Homo sapiens: one gene and its partner. The protein of the gene in region 2 purifies or fractionates together with the protein of the main gene of each other region. This does not show direct contact. Each region holds a gene or a part of one and is shown on either strand. Other genes may lie near its edges.

What was found. The genes of interacting proteins can lie anywhere in the genome.
Region 1: the proteins of ZNF483 (region 2) and ZYG11A purify together in Homo sapiens (affinity purification with mass spectrometry; 2 studies listed by BioGRID and IntAct, with this or other methods). This does not show direct contact.

The regions. Positions count from the first base shown.
Region 1 is NC_000001.11:52,859,607-52,863,359, reverse strand, and holds part of ZYG11A (protein zyg-11 homolog A), read right to left. Parts: intron 2,630-3,753; coding exon 2,489-2,629; intron 1-2,488. UniProt on the Homo sapiens protein: Probably acts as a target recruitment subunit in an E3 ubiquitin ligase complex ZYGA-CUL2-elongin BC.
Region 2 is NC_000009.12:111,549,026-111,552,778, forward strand, and holds part of ZNF483 (zinc finger protein 483), read left to right. Parts: 3' UTR 1-747; coding exon of another isoform or gene 748-774; 3' UTR 775-3,753. UniProt on the Homo sapiens protein: May be involved in transcriptional regulation.

The sequences.
Region 1 (3,753 bases), on a different chromosome or scaffold from region 2:
GATAAATCCACCAACAGAGGAGAAGAATTTGAAAAATGGTAAAACAAAACATTAGGTAACTTGAAGCTACACTGTGGAAGACCTAGAACACAAATGTAAAATGAGGGCATTGTTCCAAGCTTAGACCCCACCTGCTCTGTCATTCAAGGACACTGTGATCTGTTTCCTCTACTAGAGACAGACCTGGGATATACTTCTGCTATGGAAAATGACTTTTTTTTTGTATATTGCTAAATTGATTTTTCAGTTTCATTAGATTGCCATCATCTGCAATTTAGAAATCCAGAAACCAAAAGAAATGTGATTTTCACAAAAACTACACAATCCTGGTATGAAAAGAAATTTAGAACATCTAAATTCAGCCTAGGCAACACAGTAAGACCTCATCTTTACAGAAAAAACAAAAAAAACAGCCAGGCATGGTGGGGCATGCCTATAGTTCCAGCTACTCAGGAGGCTGAGGCAGGAGGATCACTTGAGCCCAGGAGGTCAAGGCTGCAGTTGGCTGAGATCATATCATGCCACTGCACTCCAGCCTGGGCAACAGAGTGAGACCCTGTCTCAAAGAACAACAAAAACAAACAAAAACAGAAGAACATCTAATTCAATCTCTTCCTTACAGATGGAAAAAAAGGTCGAGAATTTTTAATTTATTTTATTTTTTTGAGTTGGGATCTCGCTCTGTTACCCAGGCTGGAGTATAGTGGCACCATCATAGCTTACTGTAGCAGCCTCAAACTCCTGGGCTTGCCGGGCGCAGTGGCTCACGCCTGTAATCCCAGCACTTTGGGAGGCCAATGCGGGCGGATCACGAGGTCAGGAAATCGAGACCATCCTGGCTAACACGGTGAAACCCCATCTCTACTAAAAAATACAAAAAAGTAGCTGGGCGTGGTGACGGGCGCCTGTAGTCCCAGCTACTTGGGAGGCTGAGGCAGGAGAATGGTGTGAACCCGGGAGGTGGAGCCTGCAGTGAGCGGAGATCAAGCCACCGCACTCCAGCCTAGGCGACAGAGCGAGACGCCGTCTCAAAAAAAAAAAAAAACCAAAAAAAAATCCTGGGCTCACGTAGTCCTCCAATCTCAGTCACCCAAGTAGCTGGGACTATAGGCATGTACAACCATGCCCACCTAACTTTTTTTTTGTTTTTTGAGACAGAGTCTTGCTCTGTCGCCCAGGCTGGAGTGCAGTGGTATCATCTCGGCTCACTGCAACCTCCACCTCCCAGGTTCAAGTGATTCTCCTGCCTCAGCCTCCTGAGTAGCTGGGATTACAGGCACCTGCCACCACGCCTGGCTAATTTTTGTATTTTTAGTAGAGACGGGGTTCTACCATGTTGGCCAGGCTGTTCAAATTCCTGACCTCAGGTGATCTGTCCACCTCAGCCTCCCAAAAAGTGCTGGGATTACAGGCGTGAGCCATGGTGCCCAGCCAGAAGCTAATTTTTTTTCTTTTTCTAAATTTTTGTAGAGACAGGGTCTTACTAATGTTGATCAGGCTAGTCTTGAACTCCTGGCCCCAGGAAATCCTCCCATCTCGGCCTCCCAACCAAAGTGGTGGGATTACAGGCATGAGCCACCACAGCTGACCCAGAGTTTTTCTTTATACAGCTTTTGAGCTGTAAATAAAGTTAATCTCCCATGCTGTAAAAATATTTTTTTTTGAGTCTCGCTCTGTCACCAGGAGGGAGTGCAATGGCACAATCTCGGCTCACTGCAACCTCCACCTCCCGAGTTCCAGCGATTCTCCTGCCTCAGTCTCCCAAGTAGCTGGGACTATAGGAGTGCGCCACCACGCCCACCAAATTTTTGTATTGTTTTTAGTGGAGACGGGGTTTCACCATGTTGGCCAGGATGGTCTCAATCTCTTGACCTCGTGATCCACCCGCTTCGGCCTCCCAAAGTGCTGGGAAAATATCCACATTTTTAAGGAATTGCAAAAAATTACAAATAAAGACAAGGTTTTTCTTAAGACCTTTCATTGTTATGTTTCACTAAAAACAACAATTTTCAAATAAACACATGTATAAAAGAAAAATAAATAACTGAAGTTTTCTTTCCCAAGCCTCTTAATACTTGTAATTACATTTACAATAAAACGCATCCTTCCCTAAACCAAAGCTAAGTTTGGCTATATCGATAAAAGCAACTTTATGTCATTCACAAAATACTTCAAGTGGTAGATTTGGCCACCCTTAATTATTTTTATTTTGTTCTGCACTTGTTTTCTTTCAGAAAGCCACATGATCCTATTATTCCCTTACTTAGACCAAATTTTAACTGTTTTGATTCTAATTTATTCCACATAAATCCAGATGCTCAAAGCAAAAGACACTTTGGCAGCTAAGCTTAACATTCTTTGCTCTATGAGAGCACTTGACTCACTATAGAATAAAGCATATAATTTATTATATTCAGTGTGGTTCGTGAACAATTATTAATTGAACCAAGTTAAGAAGTAATAGTAAAAATTGTCTTCCTTCAATTACCTTTAAAATAGCAGGCATGGTTACCTCCATTGAAAATGTCTCTGTGAACAGCCTGTGGAGGGCTTCCTTCACAAAACATGATCTGTTCCTGTATCGGCTCAGTGCTTCTGAAATCTGACTCATACTGGCTCCTCCAGCAACCTGAAAATAAAGATGTTACCAAACAGGTTTCACCATTCATATTTTTTCACCATTCATTTTTAACCACAGGGTTTTTGGGGCATCCAGTGTTTAAGACAATAACAACAAATGTTCAATTAAATGTTCCAGGTGTTGGCCAGGCGCAGTGGCTCACGCCTGTAATCCCAGCACTTTGTGAGGCTGAGGCAGGTGAATCACCCGAGGTCAGGAGTAGAGACCAGCCTGAACAATATGGTGAAACCCCATCTCTACTAAAATTACAAAAATTAGCCAGGCGTGGTGGCAGGCGCCTGTAGTCCCAGCTACATGACAAAATATGCTGAGAGAAAGTAAAGATCTAAATAAATGCAGAGATATACAGGATTCAAGAATCAGGAGACTAGCGCCAGGCGTGGTGGCTAATGCCTGTAATCCCAACACTTTGGGAGTCTGAGGCTCAAGGGTTGCTTGAGCCCAGGACTACGAGACCAGCCTGGACAACATAGTGAGACCTCGCCTCTATTTTTTAAAACAACATGAGACTCAACGTTATTAAACGGCAATTTTCCTCAAACTGACCTACAGATTTAATGCAATCCCAACTAAAATACCAGTAGTCCTTTTTGTAGATATTGACAAGTTGCTTTTATGATTTATATGGAAATACAAAGAACCTAGAATAACCAAAACAATTATGAAACAGAATAACAGTTGAAGAAGTCACATTACCCAATTTCAAGACTTCATATAAAGTTATAGTAATCAAGACAGTAGGCCGGGGCACAATGGCTCAGGCCTGTAATCCCAATACTTTGGGAGGCCAAAGTGGGCAGATCACCTGAGGTCAGGAGTTCAAGACCAGCCTGGCCAACATGGTAAATCCTCATCTCTACTAAAAGTACAAAAATTAGATGGGCGTGGTGGTGCACGCCTATAGTCCCAGCTACTAGGGAGGCTGAGCCAGGAGAATCACTTGAACCCGGGAGGCAGAGGTTGCAGTGAGCCGAGATCACACCACTGCACTCCAGCCTGGGTGACAGACCGAGACTCTGTCTCAAAAAAAAAAAAAAAAAAAAAAAAAAAAGGCAATACACAAACAGATAAAAATAAAGAGCCCAGCTGGGCGTGGTGGCTCACACCTGTAA
Region 2 (3,753 bases):
AGGAGTCAATTGCAGTGCTTGTTGCCATAGTTCAGAACCTGCACCACAAAGACCCTTCCAGTTCTGTAGAGTGGTTTATTGCTTTATTATCAGTGCAATAGAGAGTCACTGAGTCACTGGAGGTTCTCTGTGTGTGTGAGTGTATAAATAAAGATTTAATTTTGTTTTGCTCTTTTGTTTTCCCCTCGGAATAGTTTATCAGATGAGGAATTTCTTGATCACTGGGGAGAAATATCTTACAATTCTGAAAACACACTGTCAAAATGCTTTTCATAAAATGTAGCACATTTTAGGGTTTCTCCCTTGTGTGGAAATGTTAGTGTCTATAAAGGTCTGAACTAAGAAAGCTTCTCTCAAGCCACAACACATGTGAGGTTCCTCTGCTGAATGAATCTTTTGGTGCTCAGTAAGTTGTGATTTCCAAGCAAAGTGTTTTTCACCCTGAGAAATTGGTGAGGTATCTTTCTCTCAGAGTCTTTTTTATGAAGTCTGATGTTGAGAGGTTCTTCCAGGTTGGAGTTCTCAGGTCTGTCTCCCTTGTAGATTATCAGAGTGGGTCGATAATCTACAAGCTTTGCTAAACCTACCTGTAGCTCTTCTGGGGCAGCGGTCGTGGTGGTGGTGGCAGCGGCAGCAGGGTTCCCCATTGATTTTCTAAATGTTTGTAGTCCTTTTGTAAAGTGGACCCTTGCCTTCTAAGGTAATGGTGAATGATACATATTCCCTTCATTTTTCTGCTTTGAAGCTTCAATCTTCTTCATTTTCTCTTTTGATCTGTCAACACAATCAGAACATTTAGCTCTTTGAGCATCTTTAAGGCAGTTGCTTTAAAGTCTGTCTAGTGAGTCAATGTTTGGTCTTCCTCATGTCCATTTTTTGTTGGTTTATTTTGTGCCTTTGAATGGTCAATACTTGTTTCTTTGTATGCATCGTGATTGTTTTTGTTGACAGCTAGACATTTGAATTTTATAATGTGGCAACTCTGGAAATAAGATTATTCCTTTTTCCCCAGGGTTTATTTTTTGTTGTTGTTTTTTGTGTTGTGTGTTTTTTGTTTTCGTTTTTGTTTTACTGTCATAGGCTGTCTCTGTGCTAGGGATCAGCCTGTGTTGAATGCCTAAAGTTGTCTCAATTCTTTACAGAGCCTGCGTTTTTCCCTGGGCGGGAGCAATGGCTTTCTGAATTCACCTAGATACACAGTTTTTTGAATGTCCAGAAAAACAGGTTTCATCCCTTTTTTCTCCTGGAAGCCACTTTAGCCAGTTGGGGGTTGGGAGAATGGTAGCTTGCTTCTTTGTCTGCTCTTTCTCTGTGATCAGAAGTAGATATCTGCAATCAGAACCCTGATATTTGGAGGAAGTGGCTATTATTGTCCACCCTGGCTGCAGCAAGCTGACCCAGAAATGTGGGGTTGTGTCTCCACAGCTGCCTGCCATGGAGTGGGTGGGGATGGGTAGCTGCTACTTCACTGAAGGCTGAAATCCACCAATGTTAACTGCAATTTACCACTCAGAATTTCCCCTAGAAGCTACAAGTGTTCAGATGGACTCATGTGCTCCCAAAATAATCACTTTAGGAACTTTCTGCCGATGTAATTATTATCTAGGTGGAGAGGTGGATTCCTGGGCCACTCTATCCATGTCTTTGATTTTTCCTGCTTTCTTGAAGATTTCTTCAACTTTATCTTCCAGCTCTACTATTAAATGTTGTGAATGTTTTTATCTCTGCTGTCATATTTTTATTTCCAAGTGCATTATCTGATTCTTTCTTCCTTTTTTCTAATTGGTTTTGTTTCATAGGTGAAATATTTTTTCTCTGAGCATGTTAATTATAGTGTCTTTCTGTGTTATTCTGCTCCCTGCATTATCCCTGTTTCCTTTGAGTTGTTTTCACCTGTTTTCTGTCTCTCACACTGGAGGCTTTCCTGAAGCCTCTGATGATCTTTGACTATTTATATTTAAGAGCAGGGCTCTAAAAAGCTGATTGGAAGGTGTTTTAGGTACTTCAGCACCATCCAACAGTAATATAATGTGAGCCACATACATAATTTCAAATTTTCTAGTAGCCACTTTTAGAAAATAAAACAGGTAAAATTAAAAATGTATTTTACTTCACCCAATATATCCATAATATTATTTCATCATGTAATCAATGTAAAAAAGTATTGAGACATTTTGTTTTTTGCACTATTTTTGAAATCTGGTATGTAATGTGTTAATCTACACACAAAATTTTCATTTGTAATACATAACTCACATTTAGATTTATAAAACGTAGAGTTGATAAGTAGATTCACATAGTTCTTCCAAACATACTTTGTTGTTGTTCTAAATATACTTAATTTTCCAATAACTGAATCAAGTATCCAGTTTTTGTTTTTTTTTTTTTTTTTTTTTTTTTGAGATGGAGTCTCACTCTGTTGCCCAGGCTGGAGTGCAGTGGCGCAATCTTGGTCCACTGCAACCTCCGCCTCCTGGGTTCCAGCAATTCTCCTGCTTCAGCCTCCCCAGTAGCTGAGATTACTGGTGCACACTGCCACGCCTGGCTAATTATTTTAGTAGAGGCGGGGTTTCACTGTGTTGCCCAGGCTGTTCTCCAACTCCTAAGCCCAGGCAATCTGCCTGTCTCGGCCTCCCAAAGTGCCGGGATTACAGGTGTGAACCGCCACACACAACCCCAATTTTTGTTTAAAATTTGCATCCACATTAACAAAACTTTTATTAGAAAAATTCATTTAATATCTAGGCAAAATTATATCACTTTCAAAACTTTTTAAGTAAATTCAGTAACATATCAATTCAGTTTATTAGCATCAAATTTGATGAAGCAGTGCATAAATGGAAACAAAACAGTTTATCAATACAATATATCATTCTTCAGATTTTGCTTATTTTTTGCAGCCATTTATTACATTTAAAATTTTGTGCATATTGTCTCATTTGAAAAATGTGAGTTATTCTGTTTTATTTGTATTATGAAATGTTTCTATTGTAAATAAATTCTTTTACCTGTCTAGCCAGGTCACAAGTTTTTCCCATTTTAGGAGCTTCAAATTTAGCTTGTTCATATGCAGCGTGATATTAGGGAGAAAATGTGAATCACAGTGCTACTTTTTGTCTTTGATTGAATATTTGGTAAGCATTTCTTTTGTTTCAAGGAAATCTTGAATTGGATTTTCTAGTACAGGAAATCCTTATAAAATTCTTTTGTAAGTCATCCAGGTAACATTGGTAAAGAAACAAGATCATTAGATACATTGTCTTTTTTTTTCAGAAGTTTCATAAACTGTCAACATTCTATAGCTTTTGTGCATATGTACTGAAGAATTATAACACATGTATCCGTGACTCGTTTCTTGGAGTCTGCTTCAGAAAATTGAACACAAATATTTTCAGTATGTATCATGCAATAGAATAGAGCAATGAGGGAAAAGTTATCCTCTTGCTTTAAAATTCCAACATGGATGGTCTTTTGACTTAACTTAGCTGGAGTTCCATCCTTGTGATAGAAACTAACTTTTCTGTCTCTAACTGAAATTCTTTGACAGATGGAAGATTGTCAAAAATATCTGCCATGAGTTTGAGCCTTTAGGCAATGAATTCACATTTCATTGCCTTTACATGAATCGACATTGTAAATTTGGAGGTTCTTTGAGACAGAATATACCCAGAGTTTTCTTTGGGCAGTGTCTTGTATCAAACAGTTCATCTAAGGCTAAAGAAAAATACTTGAAATTTTTCAAGATTTGAATTA